Regions from separate parts of the Homo sapiens genome. Here region 1 is linked to region 2. Evidence: fine-mapped expression QTL. A gene starts in region 2. The other region holds a variant in brackets. All regions are shown on one strand. Distances are from middle to middle. Region 1 has its middle 23 kb from the start of LINC01843. Region 2 holds the start of DDX46 (DEAD-box helicase 46).

Evidence for each region. PIP is the estimated chance that this variant, and not a neighbour inherited with it, causes the effect.
Region 1: its variant is fine-mapped to the expression of DDX46 in whole blood (INTERVAL, PIP above 0.99).

The regions. Positions count from the first base shown.
Region 1 is chr5:134,475,073-134,491,453 of GRCh38, reverse strand. No RefSeq gene overlaps it. Among named protein-coding and RNA genes, the nearest start is that of LINC01843, 23 kb to the left of the region's middle. The variant AAT/T (reference allele first, on the strand shown) is at 7,742.
Region 2 is chr5:134,753,117-134,769,497 of GRCh38, reverse strand. It overlaps DDX46 (DEAD-box helicase 46), which reads right to left and starts at 10,719. Exons shown (of 23, transcript NM_001300860.2): 1 at 10,543-10,719; 2 at 5,406-5,594; 3 at 2,438-2,581. The coding sequence starts at 10,559. RefSeq lists an enhancer at 10,455-10,944.

The sequences.
Region 1 (16,381 bases), 280 kb after region 2:
GAGTCCTTGAAAAGGCAGTTCTGCTGTAGTGGTGGCGCCCTGATGGGAGCTGGGGGAGAAAAAGGAAGGAAGGGAGGAGAGGAGTTGAAGGTAGCAAAGAATTCTTTCTAGGAGTTATGCCGTAAAGAGGAGAGAAGAAATAGGGTCAAGAGGAGGGCTTTCTTTGAGAAGAATTGCAGCTTTTTTGTGTGCTGACGAAAATGATCCTGGAGAGAGGGAAATTTGATGCTGTGGGTGAGAAGGGGGCTAGGTGTTGGCATGAAGTCTTTGAGTAGGTGGGAGGGGATGGCATCTGGTGCACGAAAAGGGGCTGCCCTGAAATAGGAGCACGGACGGCTCGCCCATGTCAGTGGGATGGCAGGCAGAGTGGAGGGCACAGATGCGGGTGGGTGGGGGAGTAGTGGTGGGGCCTGTGGAACTTCTCTTCTGAGAGCTTCTATTTTCTTAGCAAAATCGGAAGAGGTTGTCAGCTGAGAATGAGGTGGAAGAGGAGGTGTGAAGCAGTCGTCTAGGAGAGGGGGTGTGAATAGGCTTGGAGATATAGTAGGATTGCTGGGCAGCTGTTAGGGCTCACTCAGGGAGGGTTGTGGTCATTAATTTAAAGTGAGACTGGTCAGCCCAGTTATGAGATTTTCTTCAGTTCTGGTCAGCCTGGAGGTGCACAGGTGGAGGGGGCAGAGGACTGAATTTAACTGAGGTTGTGATTTTGCCAGGTGACTACTGTGGCCAGCGGGAGAGTATAGTATTGGATCATGAACTCCAAGCTGGGTAAGGAGGGAAGGCGGGCACTATGAGGATGAGGAATGGTGAATATTTGCTTGGAGCAGTAGGTTCCAGGAGGAATTGCTGGCTTTGGGGTCCTGCGGGAGTGAGCTGGAGAGCAAGGCAGTGTTTATTGGAGTGTGAGATGCATGAAATTGAGATGACGAAGGGATTGCATTGACAGATAATGGCGGGTTCAAAATCTGGCTATGGGAGCAAGAGGCTGAGGTACTAGGGAAGCCAAGATCGTGGAGAGGAGGTCAAGGGCCTGAGAGGCATTCATCTACATGAATGCTCACATCGAAAACTGCAGCAGGAGTCGGGTGGGAGACGAGGACTGGGAGCCAGGAGCAAACATCCTCAAGGAATGAGGGAAGTGACCCAGGGCTTTGTAAATTGCTACAAAAAGGAGGAATAACAGTGATCTTGTCTGACAGTATGACATTCAAATATGGGTGTTTCTAAAGAGGGTGGCAAACTGTCTAGCAGTGGCACTGAGGAGCAAAATGGGCACCTCCTTACCCCTAGACCCGGGGCCACAAGGGCCACAGAGGGAAAACGGCCACCTCTTAAGAGGCTGCAGAGGGGGCAGAATCCACACAGGAGAGGCAGTTTCCATTAAAGCAAGAAAGTGAAGGGGACATTCAGAAATGGGGCTGAGAATATAGGGCCATACTGGTGAGTTTCAGAGAGTCCCGTGAAAGGATTTCTAGAGATGGGGTAGGGAGATGAGGTCAGCAAAGCAAAATACAGCATCCGGTAGGGCTTCGAGTCCTGGGGTGCAGGCTACCTGAGTGTTCTGGGCCTCCTGTGGGAACTGCTGTGAGCAGAGATAAAGGGTCTGAGGGGCCCAAGGCTGGGCTTGTTGGCAGGTGGAGGGGTTTTTCACTCCTGCTGATGATGGTGCTGTGAAGCTCTGAGGAGGGGCAGTCTTTTTAGAGCAGGTGGGGCTCTGGCTCCCTCCTTACTCCCAGGTAGGAATGTCAATCAAAACTCTCAGGCCAGGCTCAGCGGCTCATGCCTGTAATTCCAGCACTCTGGGAGGCCAAGGCGGGCAGATTACCTGAGGTCAGGAGTTCAAGACCAGCCTGGCCAACATGGTGAAACCCCATCTCTTCTAAAAATACAAAATTTAGCCAGGCATGGTAGCACATGCCTGTAATCCCAGTTACTTGGGAGGCTGAGACACGAGAATCACTAGAACCCGGGAGGTGAAGGCTGCAGTGAGCCAAGATTATGCCGCTACACTCCAGCCTGGGCAACAAAGCAAGACTTTGACCCTTGCCCCCACCAAAAAAAAAAAAAGCTCTCTTCACAGAACTAATACTAAGCCACAGACACATCAGTGAAAAATAATTGCCCAGAAATAGACTCATATATGGCATAATAAATCTGTAGTAAACTTGGGCCTCAAAACAGTAGGGATAAGAAACATGATTTTTTTTTTTTTTTTTTAATTTTTGCAGGGACAATTGGTTAACTAATGGGGACAAAATAAGTCCAGATCTTTACTTCAGATCTCATACTAAATGAATTCATGTGAATTAAAAACTGTAAAAATGTAGTGTTTGTGTAAAGATAGAACACTCATATATATGGTCAATAGATTTTCAACAAATGCTACCAATGCAATTCAATGGGGAGTGAACAATCTTTCCCCAACAAATAGTGCTGGAACAATTGTATAGCCATATGCAACATAATGAACCTTGACTCTTAGGCCAGTACAAAACGCTAACTTGATATGGATCATAGGCCTATATGTATGAGCTAAAACTATCAAACTTCTAGAAAAAAACATAGCAGAAAATCTTAGTGATCTTGGGTTTGGCAGAGACTTCTTAAATGGGCTACAAAGAGCACAAACTATAAAAATCGATAAATTGGGCATCATCAAAATTAAGAGCTATTATGAAAGGCAAGCCACAGACTGGAAAAAAAAATTGTAAAACATATATCTTAAAACTCAATAAAAAGATAACCCAATTGAAAAATGGGCAAAAGAATTGAATATGCACCTCATCAATGAAATATATTTAGATGGCAAATAAATACATGAAAAGATGCTCAACACAGTTTGTCATTAGGCAACTACAAATTAAAACTACATGCCCCCTAGAAGGGCTAGAATTTAAAATAACTGACCAGGCTAGGCGTGGTGGCTCACATCTGTAATCCCAGCACTTTCATAGGCCGAGGCAGCCGGATCACCTGAGGTCGGGAGTTTGAGACCAGCCTGGCCAATATGGTGAAACCCTGTCTCTACTAAAAATACAAAAATTAGCAGGGCATGGTGGCATGCGCCTGTAATCCCAGCTACTTGGGAGACTGAGGCAGGAAAATCGCTTGAACCCAGGAGGTGGAGATTGCAGTGAGCCGAGATCTTGCCACCGCACTCCAGGCTGGGCGACAGGGCGAGACTCCATCTCAAAACAGAAAAACAAACAATAAAACAAAATAACTGACCAAATCAAGTATTGGCAAAGATGGAGTCCAGGAAGGGTACAACAGGAACTCTCTCATATGCTGCTGATGAGAACGCAAAATGGAACAACCACTTCGGAAAACACTTAGATCATTTCTTAAAAAGATAAATATATACCTATCATATGACCCAGCCATTCCATTCCTAGGTATTTACCAAAGAGAAATGAAAGCATATGTCCATACAAAGTTTTGTACACAATGTTCATAGTTGCTTTATTTATAACAGCCCCAAACTGGGAATAATCCAAATGTCTATCAACAAGATAGTGGAAAAACAAATTGCCATATATCCAGATAATGGAATACTGCTCAACAATAAAAAGGAATGAACTGCTGTTACATACAACAACATAGATGAGCCTCAATATAATTAGTATATACTGTATAGTTCCATTAATATATGATTCTAGAAAAAAGACCAACCTATAGTGACGGATCAGGAGGCACAAGGAGACACTAGGGGATTATGAGTATATTATATGAACACTGCAGAGTCTAACCTTTCTTCACTTGATAGGCATTTATGTTGTTTCCAGTTTGGGCCCTGTGGTAGACAGAGAGATGTGTCACCCAGATCCCTCTTCAAGGAAGGATTTGCTGTCCAGTTGTAGAGGGTGTGATCAGCAGAAACCTTCAGATGACAGCTTCTTTGGGGTCCACCTGAGCTGCAGAGAGCTGCCTTGCCCAACATCATATCCTTTCCAGAGCACTTTGCATCTAGTATCCAACGAAAGCAAGTGAATGGAGGCTGGGCCATTTTCATCCAACACAGGACAACTCAGATGCAGACTATTTGCACCAGAGTTCCCCGCCAGCTTGGCTTGGGTTTCATTAGGCCTGCATCACAGTTTTAACTTCTGCCCAATCCTGCTTTTTCTCCCTTCCCTTCAGAGATGTTTGTATTAGTCTATTTGTGTTGCTATAAAGGAATCCCTGAGACTGGGTAATTTATTAAGAAAAGAGGGTCGGGTGTGGTGGCTCATGCCTGTAGTCCCAGCACTTTGGGAGGCCTAGGTGGTCGGATCACCTGAGGTTAGGAGTTCGAGACCAGCCTTGCCAACACTGTGAAACTCTGTCTCTACTAAATATACAAAAATTAGCCCAATGTGGTGGTGGGTGCCCATAATCCCAGCTACTCGGAAGGTTGAGGCAGGAGAATTGCTTGAACACAGGAGAAGGAGGTTGCAGTGAGCCGAGGTCACGTCATTGTACTTTAGCCTGGGCAACAAGAGCAAAACTCCATCTCAAAAAAAAAAAAAAGAAAAAAGAAAGAAAAGAGGTGGAGGGAGAAGAGCAGGAAAAAAAAGAAAAAAAAAGTAGGCTTATTTGGCTCACCATTCTGCAGGCTGTACATGAAGCATGATGCTGCCAGCATCTACTTTATGGAAGGACCTCAGGAAGCTTCCTCTCATGGTGGAAGGCAAAGGGGGAGCAGGTGTGTCACATGGCAAGAGATGGAGCAAGAGAGGAGGAAGTAACAGGCTCCTTTAAACAACCAGCTCTCCTGTGAACTCATTACCACTCATTACTGCAGCAAGGGCACCAAACCATTCATGAGGGATCAGCCCTGTGACCCGATGCCTACCACTAGGCCCACCTCCAGCATTGTGGGTCACATTTCAACATGATATTTGAAGGAGACAAATATCCAAACCATATCAATGTTGATCCTAATAAATATCTTGTACCCCAAACTCTATCCCAGCATGTTTCCTGAGAACCTGACCTATGACAAGACTACTACAAACAATGCTTCTATGAACATTCTTGTCCATGTTTCCTGATGCACGTAAGCTCACTTTTCTGTAGGATATTTATCTAAGAGCAGAATTGCTGGGGCATAGAGTATGTTATTTTCAGCTTAATTGGATAATGCTGAACTGTATTCTAAAGTAGTTATACAAGTTTGTGTAAATTTACATGAATGAGTGTTTTTGCTAAAACTTGGAATTGTCAAAATTTTAAATTTTGGTCAGTTTGGTAAGTGTGTAGTAGTACTTTATTATGCTTTTATTTTACCTTTCCCACATTACTAAAGAAGTTGATCACATTTTTATGTTACTGACTTTTGGATTTCTTTTTTGTAAAGTTCCTATCTTTTGCCCATTTTTCTGCTGGATTGCCTGTCTTTTATCACTAATTGATATGAATTCTGTATATATTCTAGCAACAAGATTTTTGTCAGTTTTATCTGTTGCAATTATCTTCTATTACTCTGTGGCTGGCCTTTCACTCAATGTTGTCTTTTGATGAACAGATATTCCTAATTTTGTCCATCTTTCCTTTGCGATATTACTTTTTGTACCTTACTTAAGAAAACTTTTAAAATCCAAGACTATGAAGATATTCTTCTACATTATTACTTTAAAGCTTTGTAATTTTGTCTTTTATATTTAGGGCCATATGACACTGGAGTTGATTTTGAGGTATGGTGTGAGGTAGGGGTCCAATTTTATTATTTTCACATATGGGTACTCAGATATCCCAGCAAAGTTTATTGAGAGTCTTTTTGCCACTGCTATATAGTGCCATCTCTGTCATACATCAAGCATCTAAATATGTGTGGATCTATTTCTGTGATCTCATCTCTTTTCCATTGGGCTTATTGCGCATCCCCAAATCAATGCCATCCCCTTTTAATTACAACAGCTTTATAGTAATTTAGTACTTACAGAAATTTAGAGCAATTTCTTTAACTTCATTCTTCCTCTGTAGTGACCTAGCTCTTCTCGGTCTTTCACATGTCCACGTAAACGTAAAAATTATCTTACCAAGTTCTAGAAAAAAATCCATCTCGCTTTGTCACTCAGGCTGGAGTGCAGTGGCATGATCATAACTCATTACAGCCTTGAACTCTTGGGCTCAGGTATGCCTCCTACTTTATCCTCCTGAGTAGCTGCAACTTCAGGTGTGTGCCACCATGCTCAGCTAATTTTTATATGTTTTTTGTAGAGATGTGAGATGTGGTTTCGTCATGTTGCCCAGCTGGTCTCAAACTCCTGGGCTCAAGCGATCCTCCAGCCTCAGCCTCCCAAAGTGCTGGGATTATAGACTAATGTGAGCCACAGCACCTAGCTACATGGGTTTTTATTAGAAATTACATTGAGTCTGTATATCACTGTGAGAAGAACTGACAGTGTTTGTAATATTGAGTTTTCAAATCCATGAACATCATATATTACTCTATTTACTGAGATCTTCTTTGGTTTCTGTCAATAATACTATATATTTTTCTGCATTAGAGACTTATTCAGCTGTTACTAAATTCTGAATAATTTGGTATTTTAAAATTATATTATGAAGGCTGTCCTTTTAAAATATAATTTTCCCTTTGTTGCTGTTAAACACATTGATTTTTGTATATTGATTTTTTTGAAGTCCAGGAAACTTGAATTATAGATTAATTCTAATTATAGATTTAAAAATTCCTTCTGTATACAATCATAACATCTATAATTTTTGCTTTTTTTTTTTTTTTTTTTTTTACAATCCTTATTCCTTTTCTTTTCTTTTTTGGAGACAGAGTCTCATTCTGTCACCCAGGTTGGAGTGCAGTGGTGCAATCCCGGCTCACTGCAACCTCTCCCTCCCAGGTTCAAGTGATTCTCCTGCTTCAGCCTCCCACGTAGGTGGGATTACAGGCACCTGCCACCATACCCAGCTAATTTTTGTATTTTTAGTAGAGGTGGGGTTTCACCATGTTGGACAGGCTGGTCTCAAACTCCTGATCTCAAGTGATCCGCCTGCCTTGACCTCCCGTGAGCCACCGCGCCTGGCATCATTACTACCACTTTTATTTAACATTATACTAACGGTTCTGGCCATCACAGTAAAAAACAAAACAAAACAAAACAAAACACGGGCCGGGCGCGTTGGCTCCTGCCTGTAATCCCAGCACTTTGGGAGGCTGAGGCGGGTGGATCACGAGGTCAGGAGATCAACAGCATCCTGGCTAACACGGTGAAACCCCGTCTCTACTAAAAATACAAAAAATTAGCCGGGCGTGGTGGCCTGCGTCTGTGGTCCCAGCTACTTGGGAGGCTGAGGCAGCAGAAAGGCGTGAACCCAGGAGGCGGAGCTTGCAGTGAGCAGAGATCACGCCATTGCACTCCAACCCAGGAGGCGGAGCTTGCAGTGAGTGGAGATCACGCCATTGCACTCCAGCCTAGGAGCTCGCAGTGAGTGGAGATCACGCCATTGCACTCCAACCCAGGAGGCGGAACTTGCCGTGAGCGGAGATCACGCCATCGCACTCCAGCTTAGGAGCTCGCAGTGAGTGGAGATCACGCCATTGCACTCCAACCCAGGAGGCGGAACTTGCCGTGAGCGGAGATGACGCCATCGCACTCCAGCCTAGGAGCTCGCAGTGAGTGGAGATCACGCCATTGCACTCCAACCCAGGAGGCGGAGCTTGCTGTGAGCGGAGATCACGCCATTGCACTCCAGCCCGGGCGACAGGGCGAGACGGGAGTCTCAAAAAAAAAAAAAAAAA[AAT/T]GTAGTAATGAATGTCTCTGTTTTGTTCCAGTTTTCAAAGGGAAAACTTTCATTGTTTTACCACGAGGTATAATCCTTGTTTTATTTCTTTAAAGACAGCCTTTATATAATCAAGACAGCTTCTTTACATTTCCAGTTTGATAAAAGTGACCTTTAAAAAATTATTCAGGCCGGGCGCGGTGGCTTACGTCTGTAATCCCAGCACTTTGGGAGGCCAAGGCGGGCGGATCACGAGGTCAGGAGATCGAGACAATCCTGACTAACACGGTGAAACCCCGTCTCTACTAAAAATACAAAAAATTAGCCGGGCGTGGTGGCGTGCGTCTGTGGTCCCAGCTACTTGGGAGGCTGAGGCAGCAGAAAGGCGTGAACCCAGGAGGCGGAGCTTGCAGTGAGTGGAGATCACGCCTTTGCACTCCAACCCAGGAGGTGGAGCTTGCAGTGAGCGGAGATCACGCCATTGCATTCCAGCCTAGGAGCTCGCAGTGAGTGGAGATCACGCCATTGCACTCCAACCCAGGAGGCGGAACTTGCCGTGAGCGGAGATCACGCCATCGCACTCCAGCTTAGGAGCTCGCAGTGAGTGGAGATCACGCCATTGCACTCCAACCCAGGAGGCGGAACTTGCCATGAGCGGAGATGACGCCATCGCACTCCAGCCTAGGAGCTCGCAGTGAGTGGAGATCACGCCATTGCACTCCAACCCAGGAGGCGGAGCTTGCTGTGAGCGGAGATCACGCCATTGCACTCCAGCCCGGGCGACAGGGCGAGACGGGAGTCTCAAAAAAAAAAAAAAAAAAAAAAAAGTGGTAGTAGTGAATATCTCTGTTTTGTTCCATTTTCAAAGGGAAAACTTTCATTGTTTCACCACGAGGTATAATCCTTGTTTTAGTTATTTTTTTAAAGACAGCCTTTATGTGATCAAGAAAGCTTCTTTACATTTCCAGTTTGATAAAAGTGACCTTAAAAAATTATTCAGGCCGGGCGCGGTGACTCACGTCTGTAATCCCAGCACTTTGGGAGGCCAAGGCGGGTGGATCACGAGGTCAGGAGTTGGAGACCATCCTGGCTAACACGGTGAAACCCCGTCTCTACTAAAAATACAAAAAATTAGCCGGGCGTGGTGGCGGGCGCCTGTAGTCTCAGCTACTTGGGAAGCTGAGGCAGGAGAATGGTGTGAACCCGGGAGGCGGAGCTTGCAGTGAGCCGAGATCGCGCCACGGCACTCCAGCCTGGGCGGCAGAGCAAGACTCTGTCTCAAAAAAAAAAAAAAAAAAAAAAAAAAAGAAACAAACAAAATACAAAATTATTCAAGGCTGGGCATGGTGGCTCATGCCTGTAATCCCAGCACTTTGGGAGGCCGAGATGGGAGGATCACTTGAGGTCAGGAGCTCGAGACCAGCCTGGCCAACATGGTGAAACCCCGTCTCTACTAAAAATACAAAAATTAGCCAGGCATAGTGGTGGGCACCTGTAGTCCCAGCTACTCGGGAGGCTGAGGCAGGGAATCGCTTGAACCTGGGAGGCAGAAGTTGCAGTGAGCCGAGATTGCGCCATTGCACTCCAGCCTGGGCAAAGAGCAAGATTCTGTCTCAAAAAAAAAAAAAAAAAATTCATTCATTTAATTCAATGTTGTGTTTTATAAAATACTTTTCCTGCATCCACTGAGATAACTGTAGTCCTTTAATCTGTTAATATGATAAATTGCATTAACTTGTTTTTTTGTTTTGTTTTGTTTTTTTGAGACAGTTTCACTCTTGTTTCCCAGGCTGGAGTGCAATGGTGTGACCTCAGCTCACCACAACCTCCACCTCCGTGGTTCAAGCGATTCTCCTGCCTCAGCCTCCCGAGTAGCTGGGATTACAGGCCTGCACCACCACGTTGTATTTTTAGTAGAGACAGGGTTTCTCCATGTTGGTCAGGGTGGTCTCGAACTCCCAGCCTCAGGTGATCCGCCTGCCTCTCTGCCTCCCAAAGTGCCGGGATTACAGGCGTGAGCCACCATGCCCGGCCAATTTTTTTTTTTTTTTTTTAATATAACCTGATGGTCATATGTACTATCCTTTTTATATGTTGCTAAATTTTAACAATACTTTGTTTAGGGTTTTTATATCTGTGTTTATAAAGGAGATCAGTCTTTAATTTTTCCATTTTGACCTTGTCAGATTTGGGGACCAGGGTCATGTTAGCTCTATAAAATAAGTTGAGGAAGGTAACACCAGTTCTTTGGGAATAGAAACTTCTGAACTTCTAGAAGAGTTTGTGTAGGAATAGAATTTATTTTCCGTTGGATATTCAATGTAATTCACAGGTTAGGCTATCTGGGTTTGGAGTTTTCTTTGTGGGAAGATTTTAAATTATGGTTTCAATCTTTTCTTTGAGACAGAGTCTTGCTCTTGTCGCCCAGGCTGGAGTGCAATGGCGCAGTCTGGGCCACTGCAACCTCCACCTCCTGAGTTCAAGCGATTCTCTTGCCTCAGCCTGCCAGGTAGCTGGGATTACAGGCACCTGCCACCATGCCCAGATAGTTTTTTGTATTTTTAGTAGAGATGGGGTTTTGCCATGCTGGCCAGTCTGGTCTCGAATTCCTGACCTCAGGTGATCCACCTGCCTAGGCCTCCCAAAGTGCTGGGATTACAGACATGAGCCACAGTGCCTGGCCAGTTTCAATCTCTAATAGTTATAGGACTATTCACGTTTTCTCCTTCTTCATGAGTCATTTGGTAAATTATTATTTCTGGGAATTTTTTCATTTCATCTATATGTTTTTATTGGCAATAAGTTGTTCATAACTTCTTAGTAATTTTTAGATGTATATGTGATCTCTTGTAATGTCTTCTTCATTCCTAATATTTGTTTATTCTTTTTTTCTTTGTTAGCTCACCCGAGTTTTGTCATTTGAATTAGTCTTTTGGAAGAACAAAGTTTCATATTAAAAAAAAATTATTGTCAAGGCATGGTGGCTCACACCTGTAATCCCAGCACTTTGGGAGGCCGAGGCAGGTGGATCACAAGGTCAGGAGTTTGAGACCAGCCTGACCAACATGGTGAAACCCTGTCTCTACTAAAAATACAAAAATTAGCTGGGCGTGGTGGTGTGCACCTGTAATCTCAGCTACTCAGGAGGCTGAAGCAGGAGAATCGCTTGAACCCAAAAAGTGGAGCTGGCAGCGAGCTGAGATCATGCCATTGCATTCCAGCCTGGGTGACAGAGTGAGACTCTGTCTCAAAAAAAAAAAAAATATTTCTATTGTTTGTTTGTTTTTTATTACCTGAAATTTTTCTCTTACATTTATTATTTCATCTTCTTTCTTTGAGAATAACTTCCTGAAATATATCCTTGGTTTATCCATTTTTAACAAGTGTTCTTTTAAAATGTATGCATTTAATGCTATAGATTTTTCACTAAATACTGTCCTAGCTATACCCACAACATTTTATATGTAATATTTTTACTATTTAAGTAGTCTCTTCGTTATCCAGAGATTGGCTTTCTGTGGTTTCCATTATCCATAATTAATCGCAACCTAAAAATATTAAATGAAAAATTCCAGAGGTAAACTATTCATAAGTTTTAAACTGCGTGCCATTCTGAGTGATGCGATGAAATCTCACAATGTCCTGATTCTTCCCACTGGGAATGTGAATTGTCCCTTTGTCCAGGGTATCCACACTGTATACACTGCCCATCTGTTAGTCACTTAGAAGCTGTCTGGGTTATCCAATGGACTGTCATGGTTTTGCAGTGCTTGTGTTAGGTAACCCTTACTTTACTTCATAATGGCCCCAAAGTACAAAAGTTGTGATGTTGGCATATTGTTATAATTGTTCTATTTTTTTTATTATTGTTACTAATCTCCTAGTGTGACTAATTTATCAATTAAACTTTATCATAGGTGTGTACATGTAGGAAAAACCATCATGTACATAGGGTTTGACACTATGCATGGTTTCAGGCATCTACTGGGGTTCTTGAAATGTAACCCCCATGGATAAGGGGGGATTACCGTCATCAGTTATTTTTCTTATGAAATGGTAGGAGTTCTTTACATTCTGGATACAAGCCATTTACTAGTTATTTCATAAATATTTCCTCTTACTTTGGGTCATTCTCATAATGATATTTTGATAAACAAATTTTAAATTTTAGTATGATTCAATTTGTGCATCTTTTTGCATGTTTAGTTTAATAATTTTTTTTCTATCCTGAGGTCATAAAGATATTTTCCTATAGTACCTTTTAAAAGCTTTCTATTTTTGGCTGGATGTCGTGACTCATGCCTGTAATTCTAGCACTTCGGGAGGCTGATGTGGGAGGTTTGCTTGAGTCCAGGAGTTCAAGGCTGCAGTGAGCTATCAGTGTGCCCCTGCACTCCAGCCTGACAACAGAGTGAGACCCTGCCTCTAAAAAATAAAAATAAAAAATTTTGAAAAGGCTGGGTGCAGTGCCTCACACCTGTAATCCCAGCACTTTGGGAGATCGAGGCGGGTGGATCACTTGAGGGTCAGGAGTTCAAGACCAGCCTAGCCAACATGGTGAAACCCCATCTCTACTAAAAATACAAAAAATTAGCTGGGTATGGTGGCAGGTGCCTGTAATCCTAGTTATTCAGGAGGCAGAGGCAGGAGAATTGCTTGAACTCGGGAGATAGAGGTTGCAGTGAGCTGAGATTGCACCACTACACTCCAGCCTGGGCGACAGAGCAAGACTCCATCAAAATCAATCAATCAATCAATCTTTATATCTTCGCCCTTTCTTTTTCTTTTGAGATACGATCTCACTTTGTCACCAAGGCTGGGGTGCAGTGGTGTGATCTTGGCTCACCGCAGCCTCCACCTCCCAGGCTCAATGAGCCTCCCACTTCAGCTTCCCAAGAAGGCAAGCACCACCATGCTCAGCTAATTTTTAATTTTTTGTAAAGACAAGATCTCACTATATTGCCCAGGCTGGTCTCAAACTCCTAGCCTCAAGCAGTCTTCCCACCTTGGCCTCCCAGAGTGCTGGGATTAAAGGCGTGAGACACTCTGCCCAGCCTAAAGACCTTTTTGAAATATAATAATTCATAATGTTGCTCAAACTGTGGGAAAAATACTGGCAGTTTGCTTGAAGAATCTTACAAATGTTGGCCCCTCCCGTTTTGATGCAAGGCAGGCAACCCTTCAAATTGGGACTTAGCCTGGGAGGGTTCTTGGCTTTGCCCAGGAAAGAAATCAAGGGCAAGCTGGGGGTGTTAGATAGCAACTTTTTTTTTTTTTTTTTAATTTTAAAAAATTTTTTGAGATGGAGTCTCTCTCTGTCCCCAGGCTGGAGTGCAGTGGTGCAATCTTGGCTTACTGCAACCTCCACCTCCCGAGTTCAAGCGATTCTCCTGCTTCAGCCTCCCAAGTAGCTGGGACTGTAGGCACGCACCACCACACCCAGCTAATTTTTATTTATTTATTTATTTTTTTAGTCGAGATGGGGTTTCACCACGTTGGCCAGGATGGTCTTGATCTCCTGACCTTGTGATCCACCTACCTTGGCCTCCCAAAGTGCTGTAATTACAGGCGTGAGCCACCGCGCCTGGCTATTTTTGTATTTTTTGTAGAGATGGGGTTTCACCATATTGGTCAGGTTGGTCTCGAACTCCTGACCTTGTGATCCACCTGCCTCGGTCTCCCAAATCCCACACTGGGATTATATGCGTGAGCTGCCGCGCCCGGCCAGACAGCAACTTTTACTGAAGGGTGAGCTGGAGGTGTTAGCCAGCCACTTTTATTGAAGTGGTGATATTCAGCAGCAGCAGAAGTACTGCTTCTTGTGGAGCAGGGATACTCCATAGACACTATGCTGAGAGTAGCAGCTCAAAGGCAGGTCTGCTGTCATATTTATATCACTTTTTATTAAATGCAAATTAAGGGGCAGATTATGCAGAAATTTCTAGTAAAGGGATGGTAACTTCCAGGTCACTGGGTCGTTGCCATGGAAAGGGACAGTAACTTCTGGGTGTTGCCATGGCAGTGGTAAACTGACATGACACACTGGCAGGGCATGTCTTATGGAAAGCTGCTTCCACCCAGTCCCTATTTTAACTAGTCCTCAATTTGCTTCAGTGTCAGCACTCTACTTCCGGAGTCGAGTCCTGACCCCTGCCTCACTTTGACCCAATTACTTCTAGGAATCAATCCTAAGAAAATGGTTCTCAGATCAAGCATGGTGACTCACGCCTGTAATCCCAGCACTTTGGGAGGCCAAAGCAGGCAGATCATTTGAGGTCAGGACTTCTAGACCAGCCTGGCCAACATGGTGAGAGTCTCTACTACTAAAAATACAAAAATTAGCTGGGTGTGGTGGCAGCAACCACCTGTAATTCCAGCTGCTTGGGAGGCTGAGGCAGGAGAATCTCTTGAACCTGGGAGGCGGAGGTGGCAGTGAGCTGAGATCCTGCCACACTCCAGCCTGGGAGACAGAGCAAGATTCTGTCTCAAAAACAAAATAAAACAAAACAAAAAAACAAAACAAAAAAAACCAAAAAGGGTTCTCAGTAAATAATAATTACTTCTAAGAAACAATCATAAGGATATTCATTAAACCACAACATGTAATGATAAAAAATGTTAGATGAGTTAGATATATAGTAAAATAAGACATATTTATAATGAAATGTTTTGTAGCTATTGAGAATTTATTATGGGATTCTGAGATTGCACATAATCCTTAACTATTATTTCACTTCATCACAAATATGTACATATGTACGTATTGTAATTTAAAAATCAAATAAGTTTTTTTTTTTTTTTTTTTTGAGATGGAGTCTCACTCTGTCACCCAGGCTGGAGTACAGTGGCAGGAACTCGGCTCATTGCAAGCTCCGCCTCCCAGGTCCACGCCATTCTCCTGCCTCAGCCTCCCGAGTAGCTGGGACTACAGGTGCCCGCCACCACGCCTGGCTAATTTTTTTTTGTATTTTTAGTGGAGACAGAGTTTCACCGTGTTAGCCAGGATGGTCTCAATCTCCTGACCTCGTGATCCGCCCGTCTCGGCCCCCAAAGTGCTGGGATTACAGGCTTGAGCCACCGCGCCTGGCCTCAAGTAAGATATTTTAAAGATACTTTAAAGTAACACTTCTTTTTTTTTTTTTTTTTTTTTGAGACAGAGTCTTACTCTGTCACCCAGGCTGGAGTGCAATGGTGCAATCTCAGCTCCCTGCAACCTCTGCCTCCCAGGTTCAAGCGATTCTCCTGCGTCAGCCTCCCGAGTAGCTGGGATTACAGGGGTGCCCTATCACGCCCAGCTAATTTTTGTATTTTTAGTAGAGACGGGGTTTCACCATGTTGGCCAGGCTGGTCTCGAACTCCTGACCTCAGGTGATCCACCCGCCTTGGCCTCCCAAAGTGCTGGGATTACAGGCGTGAGCCACCACTCCTGGCTAAAGTCATACTTCTAAAGAGCTTTAAATCACATGTAGTAATGCTCACAAATGTAATTTTTTTTATTGAGGTGAGGTTCACATAAAAAAAATTTGGGGCTGGGTGTGGTGGTTCATGCCTGTAATCCCAGCACTTTGGGAGGCTGAGGCAGGAGGATCACTTGATCCTGGGAGGTCAAGGCTGCAGTGGGCCTGGGTGATGGAGTGAGACCATCTCAAAAAAGTTTTTTTGTTTTTTCCTAGTGTTTTGTTGAGGATTTTTATATCTATAATCATAAGAGATGTTGATCTGTAGTTTTCTTTTTTTGTTTTTGTTTTTTGAAGACAGGGCCTTACTCTGTTGCCCAGGCTGGAGTACAATGATACAATCTTGGCTCACTGCAGCATCAACTTCCCAGGGTCAAGGATCCTCCCACTTCAGCCTACTGAGTAGCTTGGACTACAGGTATAGGCCACCATGCTTGGCTAATTGTTTTGTATTTTTTGTAAAGACGAGGTCTCTGTTGCCTAGGCCAGTCTCGAACTCCTGGAGGCTCAAGGGATCCTCCTGCCTTGGCCTCCTAAAGTGCTGGGATTATAGGCATAAACCATGGCACTTGGCCTGTAGTTTTCTTTTCCTGTGATATCCTTGTCTGATGTTGATATCAGGGTAACACTGACCTTTATATACAAACTTTAAAGTCAGCAATTCAGTATCCTTTAGTACATTCACGATGTTATACACCCACCACCTCTATCTAGTTCCAAAACATTATCATCACTGCAAAAGGAAACCCTGTACCCATTAAGCACTGACTCTCCATTCCACTCCCTCCCACACACACACACCATTGAGCCCCTGGCAGCCACCAACCTGCATTCCATCTCTACGGATTTACTATTATGGATATTTCATATAAATGGAATCATGTAAGACCTTTTGTGTCTGGCTTATCACTTAGTCTGATGTTTTTGAGGTTCATCCATGTAGAATGTAGCAGTACTTCATTCCTTTTTTATGGATGATTAGTGTTCCATTGTAGCTTACAAGAGTAATTTTAACATTAAAAAACAACAAAATGGCATACCAAGCTCCATATAGAACATGATGTCAATTTTGTATTTTAACATGTATATAAGCATAGAAAAAAGTGGGAAGAAAATATGCCCAAATATTAACAGTGTAGCGAGGCGTGGTGGCACATACCCTCCTCTAGGGAGGTTGAGGCACGAGAATTGCTTGAACCCGG
Region 2 (16,381 bases):
TCAGCTGGGTATGGTGGCACGTGCCTGTAATCTCAGCTATTCAGGAGGCTGAGGCAGGAGAATAGCCTGAACCAGGGAGTCAGAGGTTGCAATGAGCTGATATTGCACAACTACATTCCAGCCTGACGACAGAGCAAGATTCTGCCTCAAAAAAAAAAAAAAAAAAAAAACCTTGAAAATATAACGAAAAAAATTAATCCCATGACACTAATGGGAAGCATTACTAAATATTTGGAAATTCAACCCAAGAAAAACTGAACATACTACATACAAACAATATAGTTTGTTTATAGGTAGGATAGTTAAAATGTGATAAATGAAGAAACAGACCAATATATTAATATTCTGCAAGATAATTTATATATGTAATAACGTTTAAAATCCCAAGGGACATGCATTTCGAATGTTCTAATGTTCTAATGATTTTAGGGGATTTTTTTGAGACGGAGTCTCTCTCTGTCGGCCAGGCTGGAGTGCAGTGGCGCAATCTCGGCTCACTGCAACCTCCACCTCCCGGCTTCAAGTGATTCTCCTGCCTCAGCCTCCCGAGTAGCTGGGATCACAGGTGTGTGCCACCACACCTGACTAATTTTTTACTTTTAGTAAAGACGAGGTTTCACCATGTTGGTCAGACTGGTCTCAAACTCCTGACCTCGTGATCCATCCACCTCGGCCTCCCAAAGTGCTAGGATTACAGGCGTGAGCCACTTCACCCAGACTTCTAATGATTTTTTAATGTTAAAATAACCTGCCATTCTTGGAATAAACCCAACTTGTTTACGCACCCCAACTTACGGCATCTCATAATGAATAAAATTTCTTAATTTTAATGTAATCAAATTAGTCAACCTTTTTTCTCCTTTATAATTGGTGCTTTTTAAAGTAGTTTAGAAATCCTTCCAGATTTGATGTAAGATACCTAGAGGTGAAGAAGAAGATACTCTCTGGCACAAACTTCTAAAAGGTTTAGAATTTTGCCATCTAATTTGGTCTTTGCTTGGAATTGCTTTTTGTACACAGAATAAGGTAGGCAGTCTTATTTCATAAAAGGATACTAGATATCCCTAGAGCAATTTAAAAATTTTTCTGGCCAGGCACGGTGGCTCACGCCTTTAATCCCAGCACTTTGGGAGGCCGAGGCGGGTGGATCACGAGATCAGGAGATCGAGACCATTCTGGCTAACACGGTGAAACCCCATCTCTACTAAAAAATACAAAAAATTAGCTGGGCATGTTGGCACACACCTGCAGTCCCAGCTACTCGGGAGGCTGAGGCAAGAGAATTACTTGAACCCGGGAGGCGAAGGTTGCAGTGAGCCGAGATTGCACCACTGCATTCCAGCCAGGGCAACAGAACGAGACTTTGGCTGTTAAAAAAAAAAAAAAAATCTTCACTTATTACATCATCACCTCTGTCATCTATCAAATTACCATGTGTATGGATGCCTTTCTGGGCTCTTTACATGGTTCACTAATCTGTCTGTCCACTGCTAAACAAATTGCACATTGTCTTAATTTCTGTTAACTTTTTTTTGTTTTTTTTTTTTGAGAAGGAGTTTCACTCTTGTTGCCCAGGCTGGAGTGCAACGGCATGATCTCACCTCACCGCAACCTCTGCCTCCTGGGTTCAAGCGATTCTCCGGCCTCAGCCTCCAGAGTAGCTGGGATTACAGGCATACGCCACCACGCCCAGCTAATTTTGTATTTTTAGTAGAGACGGGGTTTATCCACAATGGTCAGGCTGGTCGCCAACTCCCAACCTCAGGTGATCCGCCCACCTTGGCCTCCCAAAGTGCAAGGATTACAGGCGTCAGCCACCGCGCCTGGCCTAATTTCTTAACTTTTAAGACAAGTCTTGGCTGGGCGCGGTGGCTCAGGCCTGTAATCCCAGCACTTTGGGAAGCCGAGGTGGGCAGATCACTTGAGGTCAGGAGTTCGAGACCAGCCTGGCAAACATGCCAAAACCCCATCTCCACTAAAAACATAAAAATTAGCTGGGATATTATGTCTGCCTCTTCATATAATCCCAGGACTTTTGGAGGCCTAGGTGAGAGGATTGCTTGAGTCTACAAGTTTAAGGTTAGTGAGCTATGTTCTTGCCACTTCACTCCAGCCTGGGCAACAGAGTGAGACCCTGCCTGAAAAGAAAATGACAGAGTTTCTACAAAGATGTCTATAAAATACATTTCTGATTGACAGTTATGTATTAAGTAAGAATACAATGTATTGAATGTTAAAACTGACAGAATCTATTATTTTCCAGTTGAATTATAAACATTATAGCCAATTAAAATAAAACACTGCCAACAGTTCATGGTAGGAGCCAAATGCAGTTAATTCTCTATAAATACAAACTTACAGGGAAAAAAAAAAAAGGCGCAGAGAAGGGAAGCAGTCCCCAGTCTGCACTATAGATGCAGCCCAATGATAACATTACCTATTCTCAGTTTTCTTGCTTTTATTTCCAGGACTGGAGGATCGGGATCGCCGGCCCCGGCTTCTACTCCTTGAGCGTCTCCTGTCTCTACTTCGAGATCTTCTTCGCTCTCGGCTTCTGTCTCTCTCTCTACTTCTGGAACGTCTGAAAGGGGGACACTTTTCATTTATTCTATGACCAAATGGAGCTACTATTTCAGATCAGGGGATTCTGTCCCACATTGAAAGAATCTTAATCACTACCATTATTAAAGGTGGAGGTCTCAATGAAGTAAAGCCAAGTCTTATAAGTGCTCAACGAAAAAAATGAGAATACTAATTTATTTCTTTCATTTTTTTAAAGACAAAGTCTCACACCTGTCACCCAGGCTGGAGTGCAGTGGCACAATTGCAGCTCACTGCAACCTCTGCCTTCTGGGTTCAAGTGATTCTCCTGCCTCAGCCTCCCCAGCAGCTGGGATTACAGATGTGCATCACCATGCCCGGCTAATTTTTTTTTTTTTTTTGGAGACAGAGTTTTGCTCTTGTTGCCCAGGCTGGAGTGCAATGGCGCAATCTCAGCTCACCACAACCTCCATCTCCTGGGTTAAAGCGATTCTCTTGCCTCAGCCTCCTGAGTAGCTGGGATTACAGGCATGCACCACCATGCCCAGCCAATTTTGTATTTTTACAGATGGGGTTTCTCCATGTTGGTCAGGCTGGTCTCGAACTCCCAACCGCAGGTGATCTGCCTGCCTCAGCCTCCCAAAGTGCTGGGATTACAGGCGTGAGCCACCATGCCAGGCCAGAGAATACTAATTTCATAAAGATGTTTGTGAAAAAACCATAATAAGTCTGTAATTAACATCGATTGAAAATCGATGGTCTAAGATAGAATATCTAGTTTCAGATAGCCTAAACCTAAGTATAAGGATGGGCATAATGGGTCTACTAAAAGATCACTAATCTGAAGATGAAGAGGCAAGAATTTCTATCCTGCTACTCCTGGTAACTAATGACATGATGAAGGTCAGATCTCCAACTTTCTGGGTCTCAGTTTCATCATCTATAAAATATGGAGACTTCACTAGACATCTTTAAAATCCCTCTTGCTCTAAAATCTTGTGATTCTACTTTCACACCCAAAAGTCAAAGACCAAATGTTAAATAACCATTTTCACTTAAGTACTTGAATTAATTGTGTGAAATTGTTCCTAGGACCACAAAATGTGAAAATGCTATCCACATTGTCACGGGTGAATATTTTCCCTGAATCCTACGTAACAACAATGTACTCCAATGTCTGAAAAGGATAAAGTTAAATTCTTTCTATGATCCACTCACAACACAATCTTGTCTTCCTTTCCTATTTTAATGAGAAACTGGGCAAGGTATGGTATCTCATACCTGTAGTCCCAACCCTTTGGGAGGCCACTAGCAACACAGTTAAGACCCCCATCTCTATGAAAAGCTTTTTTTAATTGGCTGGGTGTGGTGTGCACAGAAGATTATTTTCTTTTTTTCTGTTTTGAGATGGAGTCCTGATCTGTCGCCCAGGCTGGAGTACAGTGGCACCATGTCGGCTCACTACAACCTCCACCTCCCAGGTTCAAGCAAGTCTCCTGCCTCAGCTTCCCGAGCAGCTGGGTTTACAGGCATGCACCACCACACCTGGCTAATTTTTTTTTTTTTTTTTTTTTTAGTAGAGACGGGGTTTCACCATGTTGGCCAGGCTGGTCTCAAACTCCTGACCTCGTGATTCACCCACCTTGGCCTCCCAAAGTGCTGGGATTACAGGCATGAGCCACCATACCTGGCCAACTTTGTCACTATTAAAAATACAAAAATTATCCAGGCTTTGTGGAGCATGCCTGTAATCCCAGTTACTCAAGAGGCTGAGGCATGAGAATCACTTGAACCCGGGAGGCAGAGGTTCCAGTGAGCCTAGATCGTGCCACTGCACTCCAGCCTGGGTGACAGAGTGAGACTCTGTCTCAAAAAAAAAATAAATTAAAAAAAAAAAAAAGATTAAGGCGCTCTTTAGTTTAAATCTATGACAGCTCATTAAAATAGTTTAAGAGGCTTGGAGAGGGTCTGCTTTGTTTCCTTTTTCTGCCTGCTTTAGAGGCTGCTCTAAACACACTGTTTAGCAAAATGAAGAAAGAAAGAGAAAGAGAGAAAGAGTGAGGGAGGAAGGGAGAGAGAGTGGAAGGGAAGGAGATAGGGAGGAAGGAAGAGAGAGATGGAGGAAGGGAGGGAGGGAAGGAGGGAGAGAGGAAGGAAATTTTACAAATTTCAACAAGGGTGGCAAAAAAAAAAGGAAAGAAAATTAACACCTTGGTCAGCTCTCCTGGAGCAGAATTGGAATAGAACCCTCTTGAATATAACTTATTACTTTACTTTTTACTTCATTTTGTATGTCCCTCAGAGGGCTTCAAGGGATGTCTTTGGGTTACAGGAAATACAGCCTAAAGTTTCCAAACTAAAAACACTGTTTGATGGTCGGACACGGTGGCTCACACATGTAATCCCAGCACTTTGGGAGGCCAAGGTGGGAGGATCACATGAGGCCAGGAGATCGAGAGCAGCCTGGCCAACATGGCAAAACACCGTCTCTTTTAAAGACACAAAAATTAGACAGGTGTGGTGGTGCACATCTGAAATCCCAGCTACTTGGCAGGCTTAGGCATGAGAATCGCTTGAACCCAGGAGGTGGAGGTTGCAGTGAGCAGAGATGATACCACTGCACTCCAGTCTGAGCAACAGAGTGAGGCTCTGTCTCAAAAAAGATTAAAAAAAAAAAAAAACACTGTTTGATAGAGTCTTTGTAGGCACATCCTTCTGGGTCTAATCAAACAAGTAGGGGATAAAGAAAAGGGCCTGCAATTGGGCCACCAAACTCCAGTTGAAAACATACTTTTCAAGAAGCCTGCTATAGCCGAGAAGGCCCAATTTATCACTCGTCTTTTGGAAATTAATTAATGTCTTACCTCAGACGCTTCCTGTCCCTTGACCGAGATCTTCTTTTATCCCTGCTACGAGACCTCTCTCTCCTCCTATCTCTATCTCTACTTCTAGACCGTCTGTCATCTCCACGTTTACTTCTTTTGTCTGAGGGTGAGCGACTTCTAGACCGACTTCCAGAGCGACCCCGGGATGCCGATCGTTTTCGATAGTGGCTAGAACAATAAGTCAAAGATTAAGTTCAGCAAACACCATTAGCTTCTATTACATTTTATTACATTTTTTCTAAAAATAATTTCAGCAGACAAATTTAACACTCAAAGAACTTTTTATGAATTTTTCTAAAATTAGGAGGGAAAAAATGAACCCTTCTGCTTCAGCACAGACACATGTAGAGGTGGAAAATCTGTCTTGAAAGAGAGGCAAGGACAGTGAACAAAACAGACCAAGCTCCTGCCTTTGAGCTCCAGGCAGCTTACACTCCGGTAAAGGAAAAGACGGCAGACAAGTGAAGAAACAAACACTGTATATAGTATGTTTATATACAATATAAATATGACATTTGTTACAGAGGCTTGGAGGAAATAAAGGAGCCATGTAGATATACAGGGAATTTTCCACGCAAAAGGCACAAGTGCAAAGTCCCTAAAGAGGAAGCTTGACTGGTGAGTTTAAGGAACAGCAAGGATGCCAGTTGTGGCTAGTGTTGAAAGAGTGACACAGCGTGCCATAAGACGAGGTCAGAAAAACAGCAGGGAAGCCAAACCTGGAAGGCCTTACTGGCCATTATATAAGGACTCTGTCTTTTACACCAAGATGAAAATCTACTGGAAGACTTTAAGCAGAGGAGTGACACAACCTCATTAATGTTTTTATTTTTATTTTTAGAAACAGGCCTCACTCTATTATCCAGGATAGAGTGCAGTGATGTGCTCACAGTTCACTGCAACTTCAACTCTCTGAGGCTCAAGCAATCCTCCCACTTCAGCCTCCCAAGAAGCCGGAACTTCAGGCATGCGTCACCACACTTAGCTAATTATTATTATTATTTTTTTTTTTTGAGAAAGAGTCTGGCTCTGTTGCCTAGGCTGGAGTGCAGTGGCACAATCTCAGCTCACTGCAAGCTCCACCTCCCGGGTTCACACCATTCTCCTGCCTCAGCCTCCCGAGTAGCTAGGACTATAGGCGTCCGCCATTACGCCAGGCTAAATTTTTTTTGCATTTTTAGAAGAGATGGGGTTTCACCATGTTAGCCAGGATGGTCTCGATCTCCTGACCTCGTGATCCACCTGCCTCAGCCTCCCAAAGTGCTGGGATTACAGGCTTGGGCCACTGCGCCCGGCCACTCAGCTAATTATTTTTATTTTATTTTATTTATTTTTTTTGAGACAGAGTCGCACTCTTGTTGCCCAGGCTGGAATGCAATAGCACCATCTCAGCTCACTGCAACCTCTGCCTCCCAGGTTCAAGCAATCCTCCTACCTCAGCCTCCCAAGCAGCTGGGATTACAGGCCTATACTACCACGCCCAGCCAGTTTCGTATCTTTAGTAGATGAGGCAGTTTCACCACATTGGTCAGGCTGGTCTGGAACTCCTGACCTCAGGTGATCTACCTGCCTCAGCCTCCCAAAGTGCTGGGATGGATTACAGGCATGAGCCACCGCATGCAGCCTTTTTATCATTTTTTTAAATTTCTTTTTTGAGACAAGGTCTCACTCTGTCACCCAGGCTGGAATGCAGCAGCTCAATTGCTACTCACTGTAACCTCAACCTACTGGGCCCCAGCAATCCTTCCACCTCAATCTCCAGAGTAGCTGAGACCAAAGGCACACACCACCGCGCCCACCAATTTTTTTTTTTTTTTTTTTTGGGTAGAGATGGTGTCTCACTATGTTGCTCAGGATTGTCTTAACCTCCCGGCCTCAAGCATCTTCCCACCTCAGCCTCCCAAGTAGCTGGGACCAAAAGCATAAAAGCGTGTGCCACTATGCCCACCTATTTATTTCTTTTTATTTTTCATTTTTGTAGAGATGGAGTCTTGCTATGTTGCTCAGGATGGTCTCAAACTCCTGGGCTCAAGCAATCCTTCCACTTAATGTAATCCCAAAATGCTGGGATTACAGGTGTGAGCCACTGCACCTGGCCTAATGTTTTTAAAGTATTATTCTGGTTGCTGAGAGAACAAACCAAACAAAGGGAGGCAAGGACAAAAGGAGAAAGAATAGGCAGGATTAGCAAAGACCAGCACTATAGCAATCATCCAGGCATGAGATAGTGGTGGCATAGATCAAAATGGAAGGTGGAAAGATTTTGAGAAATATCAAAATCTGGATATCTTGAAGCTAGCACCGATGGGATTTAATGATGAACTAAATGTCAAGTGTGACAGCAAGAGAGAAATCACTCAGTTGCCATTTACCAAGATGGGAAGGCTGAGGGAGAAATCCAGGGAGAAGGTGGATCAGAATATTAGGTATCCAAGTGGAGATATATAGTATATAGTTGAAATATTAGCCTGTAGTTCAAGGAAGAGGTTTCTCTAGAAATATAAACTGGACAGCTATTAGTGTACAAAGGCTATTTAAAGCTATAAACCTAAATAAGATCACTAGGAGATGAATGCACCTGATTATCTCTCAAGCACCTCAAGTTCAATCTGTAGAAACCCAAACTTGTTACCCTTCCCTCCCCAAACGATTAATCGTACCAACTTCCGGTCACTAGGCTCAAAACATTAGTCATCATCAATATTTTTCTCTTGCTCTCATTCGATACAATAAATAAAACACCAATTGGCTGGGCACAGCGGCTCATGCCTGTAATCCCAGCATTTTGGCAGGCCAAGGTGGGCAGAGAGCTTGACCTCAGGAGTTGAGACCAGCCTGGGCAACATGGTGAAACCCTGTCTCTACAAAAAATACAAAAATTAGCAAAGCGTGGTGGCACACGCTTGCAGTCCCAGCTATTCGGGAGGCTGAGGTGGGAGGATCTCTTGAACCTGGGAAGCATAGGTTGCAGTGAGCCAAGATTGTTTCAATGCACTCCAGCCTGGGAGACAGAGCAAGTCCCTGTCTCAAAAACAAAAAAACAGGCCGGGTGCGGTGGCTCACGCCTGTAATCCCAGAACTTTGGGAGGCCGAGGCGGGTGGATCACAAGGTCAGGAGATCGAGACCACCCTGGCTAACACGGTGAAACCCCGTCTCTACTAAAAAATACAAAAATTAGCCTGACGCGGTGGCAGGCGCCTGTAGTTCCAGCTACTCGGGAGGCTGAGGCAGGAGAATGGCGTGAACCCTGGAGGCGGAGCTTGCAGTGAGCCGAGATCCCACCACTGCACTCCAGCCTGGCGAAAGAGCGAGACTCTGTCTCAAAAACAAAAACAAAAACAAAAAAACAACCAAGTAATACCAATTTCACCTCTGTAATTCCCTTCACATTATATCACCTCCACAGAGTTCCAACCGTCACTATTCTATATCAGACATATCTACCTAGGAGATTCTTAAAGACTGTAGTCTTCCTGTTTCTATTACTTTTCCATTAAATCTTACTCATTGCTGCTAAGGAGAATTCTGATTCTATTACACACTTTTTACTCAAAATCTTCAAAGGTTCACAAACAAATTCTGATCTTCAAAATCTACAATCCACCCGCTTTCTGGGCCCAAGTCCTATTCAGGACCTACCTCCTACTACTTCTCAAAAAAGATAAAATCCCTTCATGAAACCTACATATGCAGAAAAATTGGGCTTTTTAGCTATTTCTCTAACACCTTGCGCCTTCCCACCTCTAAGCCTTTCATGATTCCCTGAACAAACCTAGAGCACAGGCCATGCACACCAGAGAGGTAAAGGAGAAGGCTGACGGGCTAGAATGGACCTTCTTGTGAAGGGCCTTGAAGGCTGTCATAGAGTTTAAATTTCATCTTGGAAGCAGTAGAAACCAATGGAGACTAAGTCAGGGGCATGCCATCATCTTATCTCTACTTCAGAAGTGTCACTCTGGCTGTAGTGTAAGGGATCTAACAATTAGGAGAGCAACAGAGGAAGACAATCAATTCAGAGAATCAATTTAAAACAGATGTAGTAGTCTGGACAATAAATAATTAGGGCCTCAATTAAGTCAGGGACAACCAGAATGGGCAAAGGATGTAGAATCTAACAGGCTGTGGGTAGTGAGAGAGAAGAATGAGTCAAATAAATATCACTTTCAGATTTCTGGTCTGGACAGCCTTCCGGAGATTTAAAACACCGTCACAGGAATTTTCTGTAGTTAAAGAAATATTTTTTATCTTCATCCAGGTGATGATTACACGGTTTATATATTTGCTAAATTTCATCAAGCTTTACCCTTACGTTTTGTCCATTTCCCTGATTGTTAATTGTACCTCAACAAAGAACTGTTAGCACTAACAACAAAAGCCTTCATTGTTCCTAGACATAAAATATCTTTCAGTCATTGCTAAATACATAGCAAATAGTCATTTTTAACATAAAAATCTCAAGGTTCCTAACAATCTATCAACAATCTAAAGTTGTGATGAGATCTAATGAGTTCTAATAAGAGCTCATAGTCCACAACTTCAAAAGGACAGAAAAGCAGGTAACAAAGTTACCTGCTTAAATACGAAATCTATTTGCGAAGTAAATGCCCACGCAACAAGTATTTATTGTAGCCCAGTAAAAGCCTAGTCGTGTATAGTGCTGTCGATGCGGTAAAAATGTCTGCCCACACGCTCCTTTCAAGTAACTTGGGAAAAGATCATACGCGCACAAAGAACTAAAATACAGAATGACAGGAGTCGAGGAAATGTTGGAAACGCGAAGCAATAAGCAATCCAACTGGGATCACTTCTGACTGAAGTAATCAGGGCAGGCTCCCTTGAAGTGGCGGGATGTGGTGCCCAATCACTAACGTCCTGGAGGGTTGTTCCCGCTCCAGGGGCTCGAACCCTCTGATGGTAGTGCAGGGGAAGCCGTCGCTGGCCCAAACACAACCATTCCCTCAGCCGAGGTCCCCCAGCCCTTCCAATGCTCGCGGGGCAGCGCTGACCGCACGTGGGGCCGCGCCAGGCCTGGCCCGGCGGCCACCTCAACTCCCGCCTCTTCTCACGACCCCAAGAAGCCGCTCGCCCGCTAGCCCGCTCGGCGCTCTGCCTCACCGTGACTCCCGACCCATGCTGCCGACCGCGGGAATACTGGTGCCCTTGAGTACCACGCACAGGCGAACCGGACAAACAAGGAGGCTGAGCTGCCCTCAACGCCCGGCAAAGACCAGCGCTAAACACTAGCAGCACCTACAGCTGTGGCGGCCATCCCAGCGCGGCCAACGAAAACAGGACGTGCTGGCGCCGGCAGCCGAAGGAAGAGAAAAGCCGACCGGAAGCTGCCGCTCTTCCACAGCGCCCCACCTCGACTGGAGGACGCACAGCGCCGGCCCCATCGAAAGGTGATGCCTTCGCCCCGCCCAGTCTTCCCGGCGCCCGCACCACGCCCGGCTGATTAGTGCGATGGAGCGCAGCGCGTCAGCCTCGCCGGCCCGTGAGGGTGTTTCGCGCCAGAGCCAAAGAGGCGTCCTGGGCAGGCTGATGTCTGCCTTAATTTGCGCTAAATAATGCGGCAACTTTCTCCGTACACGCTCTTTATTCATGTATACATTCACTCATTTATTTATGTTGTCATATGCCAGGCTTGTGCTAGATCCTGGGGAGCTCACAGTCTATCCGGGAAACAGATGACTAAAGCCAGCACAGTGGCTCACGCCTGAAATCCCAGCACTTTGGGAGGCTGAGGCGGGAGGATCTATTGAGCCCAGGAATTCAAGACCTGGGCAACGTAGCCCTCGTCTCTGCAAAGAAAATAGTAATAATAATAGACTTGACTAAAAACACAAGCAGAAGTAATACAGCAAGGAGAGTCCACCATTGGAGACGGATTCAGAAAACACGTTTCCCTTGGAAGTGAACTCTGAGGTGAGATTTGAAGACCCGGTAGGTGTTAACCTAGTAGAGAACAAAGAGCTAAAAATACTTTGGCAAAAGATTAGTTCTCAACATTGCTTGCACTGGGAAGCTTAAAAATAAAACAAAAAAACAAAAAAAGGGCCAGCCATGGTGGCTCATGCCTATAATCCCAGCACTTTGGGAGGCCGAGGCAGGAGGATGGCTTGAGCCCAGGAATTCAAGACCTACCTGGGCAACATAGCGAGACCCTCTACAAAAAATAAGCAAAATAATTAGCCAGGTGTGCTGGCACGCCTGTGGTTCTAGCTACTTGGGAGGCTGAGGTGAGAGGATCATTTGAGCCAGGGAGGCTGAGGCAAGAAGATTACTTGAGCCCAGGAGTTTGAGGCTGCAGTGAGCTATGATGACTCCAGCCTGGGTAGCACAGAGAAATCTCATCTCTAAAATATTAGTAAATAAAATAGAAGCCTGGGTTCCACCCCTATGTTCTGATTTAATTGGCCTGGAGTGCTTCTTGTGCACTGGGAATTTTTAAGCTTCCCAGGTAATTCTGAAGTACAGTCAAGATTGAGAACATTATTCGAGAGTTTGGGCACCAAAAAAATGTATATGTATTGTCTCATGCAACACACACAGAAATGTTGAATTTTTTTTGTTTTTTTTTTTTGAGACGGAGTTTCGCTTTTGTTGCCCAGGCTGGAGTGCAATGGTGAGAGCTCAGCTCACCACAACCTCCACCTCCTGGGTTCAAGCGATTCTCCTGCCTCAGCCTCCCAAGTAGCTGGGATTACAGGCATGCACCACCACCCCAGCTTATTTTGTATTTTTAGTAGAGATGGGGTTTCTCCATGTTGGTCAGGCTGGTCTTGAACTCTCGACCTCAGGAGACCTGCCCGCCTCGGCCTCCCAAAGTGCTGGGATTACAGGCATGAGCCACCGTGCCCGGCCATGTTGAGTTGTTTTTGCAAAAAGCTATAATGGAGTTGGAGAAAGGCTCATATTTTTACTTTACTTGCCTCTGTACTATTTTACTTTCTTACACCTAAAGATGATGGAAAAGTTCTGTGTCTTGATTTTAGTGGTCATTGAATAGATTTGCACATTTTTCAAAATTCACTGAACTGTACCCTTTAACTGTACATGACTTATTGTATGTAAATTTTACCTCAACATAGTTGATTAAAGAAAAAAAGCAAACCAACGAGTGACACTCCAAGATGAGTTTATGCTCCCCACGCCCCCCGTGGCTTGCTGCCCACCTGTGGTAGCTGCGAGAAGCATTGAAGAGGGATAGAGACTGGAGGTTCTGGCAGTCCATGCCAAGGGTAAGAAGGCCTGAGCTAATTAATGAGTGACAGGATGGACACCAAGGAGGGTTAGGAATCCCCCTGTAAATTGTTTGGATGTGGGCTGCAGGTAGGGAATGTGGATTTCAACCTAAAAGACATAGAAAACCACCAGTGGCTTAAACAATGAAGACTGAGAAGTGATCAGATTCTGGGTGTATTCTGGAAGCAGCTCTCAAAGCGCCAATAGATAAACTGGATGTGAGCTATGACGGAAAGGAAGGAATAAAAGATGACTGCCAGGTTTTCAACAGAGCTATTGTGGACTGTGGTGAATTTGTGGAGATGAGAAAAGCATGGAAGCAACAGATTTAGTGGAGGAAATAGAGAAAGTCATTGAGTTTGTTTCAGTCATGTGATATTTGAGGTGCCTACTAGACATCCAGGAAATAACAGCTACAAATAGAGGCGGGAGAGATATGGGTCCTCAGCATTTTATAGAATGTATAATACACAGTATTTGAAGCCATGGACTGGATGAGGCCATGCAGAAGTGAATGGAAATAAGTCCTTAATTTTTGAAATTAACACAATTTGAATATTGCTTAGAATCACAGGATTAGGGCCAGATGCAGTGGCTCATGACTGTCATCCCAGCACTTTAGGAGGCTGAGGCGGGTGGATCACATGAGGGCAGGACTTCAAGGCCAGCCTTGCCAACATGGTGAAATTATGTCTCTACTAAAGATACAAAAATTAGCTGGGTGTGGTGGTGCGTGCTAATCCCAGCTACTCGGGAGGCTGAGGCATGAGAATCACTTGAAACCGGGAGACAGAGGTTGCAGTGAGCCAAGATCGCGCCACTGCACTCCAGCCTGTGCGACAGAGCGAGACTCTGTCTCAAAAAATAATAATAAAAAGAATCATGGGATTAATGTTATAGATTTTTAAAATCACAAACTCAAACTTCTTGATTTTAAGTAACAAAACTGAGACTCAGGAAACATATTTCATCCTAGATCACTAACCTTGTTGGAATCTAACCTGGAACTAGAGTCCAGAGATCTGACACTTAGGCCAGAGCTGTCTTCAAGATACTTTATTTCCAACTCCCCTTTAAGACAACACATTAACAAGACAATTCTAACTGGCTTAAATATTTCTTATATATATAATATATATTCTAATTAATATTACATTAATATAATATATATAGAATATATATTTTATATATATATATATATATATATATATATATATTTTTTTTTTTTTTTTTTTTTTTTTTGAGACAGGGCCTGGTTCTGTTGCCCAGGCTGGAGTGCAGTACTGTGATCTCGGCTCACTGCAGCCTCCTCCCAGGTTCAAGCGAATCTTGTGCCTCAACTTCCCAAGTAGCTAGTAGCTGGGACTACAGGCACACACCACCCCACCAGCTAACTTTTGTATTTTTCATAGAGAGGGTTTCGCCATGTTGCCCAAGCTGGTCTCAAACTCCTGGACTCCTGGTCTCAAGCGATCTGCCTCTCTTGGCCTCCCAAAGTGCTGGGATTACAGGTGTGCACCACCCCCACTCCACCACAATATATTTATAGTAAATTCACATCAAGTCTGTCCTGGAGGAAGGCTTTTTTTTTTCTTTTTTTAGAGACGGAGTTTCACTCTTGTTGCCCAGGCTGGAGTGCAATGGCGCGATCTCGACTCACTGCAACCTTGCCTCCTAGGTTCAAGCGATTCTCCTGCCTCAGCCTCCCAAATAGCTGGGATTACAGGCATGAGCCACCACTCCCAGCTAATTTTGTATTTTTAGTAGAGACGGGGTTTCTCCATGTTGGTCAGGCTGGTCGCGAACTCTCGATCTCAGGTGATCTGCTGCCTCGGCCTCCCAAAGTGCTGGGATTACAGGTGTGAGGCTGGAAGATTTTATCTATTTAGATAGGTGAAAGAAATGACTATAGTCTGTGTTCTAATACATCACTTTCAGTAAACTAACCTGTTTTCCAAAGCAGCAGATTTTGACTGTGACTTGACTTACTAACCCAGTATTGAATATCTAATAACCCACTTGCTGTTTTTAGTGCCAACTGTGATGACACATGTCCATTTACACAACTAATTGAACTAAAAAAACTACTAGGTTACATGGTCAAGATGTCACCTCTAAACAACCATCCTTGTCCCTCTAGTTTTAATCCATATACCTTTTTTTTTTTTTTTTGAGACAGAGTCTCACTCTGTTGTCCAGGCTGGAGTGCAGTGGCGCGATCTCAGTTCACTGCAACCTCTGCCTCCCGGGTTCAAGTGATTCTCATGCCTCAGCCTCTTGAGTAGCTGGGATTACAGACGCGCCCGCCACCACACCTGGCTAATTTTTTTTTGTTTTGGTTTGGTTTTTTTAGTAGAGACAGGGTTTCACCATGTTGGCCAGGCTGGTTTCAAACTCCTGACTTCAAGTGATCCACCCGCCTCGGCCTCCCAAAGTGCTGGCATTACAGGCATGAGTCATGGTGCCCAGCCAGTCCATATACATTTCAAAACCCAGAAATTTCCAAATAAAAAACGTTTTAAACTATTCCAAACACTAAGAAACTTCAATTCCCAGGCCAGGCGCAGTGGTTCTCGCTTGTAATCCCAGCACTTTGGGAGGCCAAGGTGGGTGGATCACATGAGGCCAGGAGTTCGAGACCAGCCTGGCCAACATGGTGAAACCTGTCTCTACTAAAAATACAAAAAATTAGCCAGATGTGGTGGCATGCATCTGTAATCCCAGCTACTCGGGAAGCTGAGGCATGAGAATCGCTTGAACCAGCCCGGGGGGCGGGCAGAGGCTGCAGTAAGCTGAGACTGACATCACTGCACTCCAGCCTGGGCGACAGAGACTCTGTTCTGAAAAAAACAAAACAAAAATTAGCCAGGGGTGGTGGCACATGCCTGTGGTCCCAGCTACTTGCAAGGCTGAGGTGGGAAGATTGCTTGGGCCTGGGAAAGCAAGGCTGCAGTGAGCCCTGATCATGCCACTGCACTCCGACAGGGGCAACATAGTGAGACCTTGTCTCAAAAAAAAGAAACTTTCAGGTCGGCTGCAGTGGCTCACACTTTTTTTTTTTTTTGAGACAGAGACTTGCTCTGTCGCCCAGGCTGGAGTGCAGTGGCACGATCTTGGCTCACTGCAAGCTCCGCCTCCCAGGTTCATGCCATTCTCCTGCCTCAGCCTCCCGAGTAGCTGGGACTACAGGTGCCTGCCACCATGCCTGGCTAATTTTTTGTATTTTTAGTAGAGACGGGGTTTCACCGTGTTAGCCAGGATGGTCTCGATCTCCTGACCTCATGATCTGCCCGCCTCGGCTTCCCAAAGTGCTGGAATTACAGGCGTGAGCCACCACGCCCGGCCTCACACTTTTAATCTCAGCAAATTGGGAGGCTGAGACAGGCAGATCACTTGAGGTCAGGAGTTTGAGACCTGCCTGGCCAACATGGTGAAACCGCCATCTCTACTAAAAATACAAAAATTAGCCAGGCATGGTGGCAATGCCTGTAATCCCAGCTACTCACTACTCAGGAGGCTGAGGCGTGAGCACTGCTTGAACCTGAGAGGCAGAGGTTGTACATCATGCCACTGCACTCCAGCCTGGGCAACAGAGTGAAACTGTCAAACAAAACACAACAAAACAGGCCGGGCGCAGTGGCTTACACCTGTAATCCCAGCACTTTGGGAGGCCGAGGCAGGTGGATCACCTGAGCTTTGGAGTTCCAGA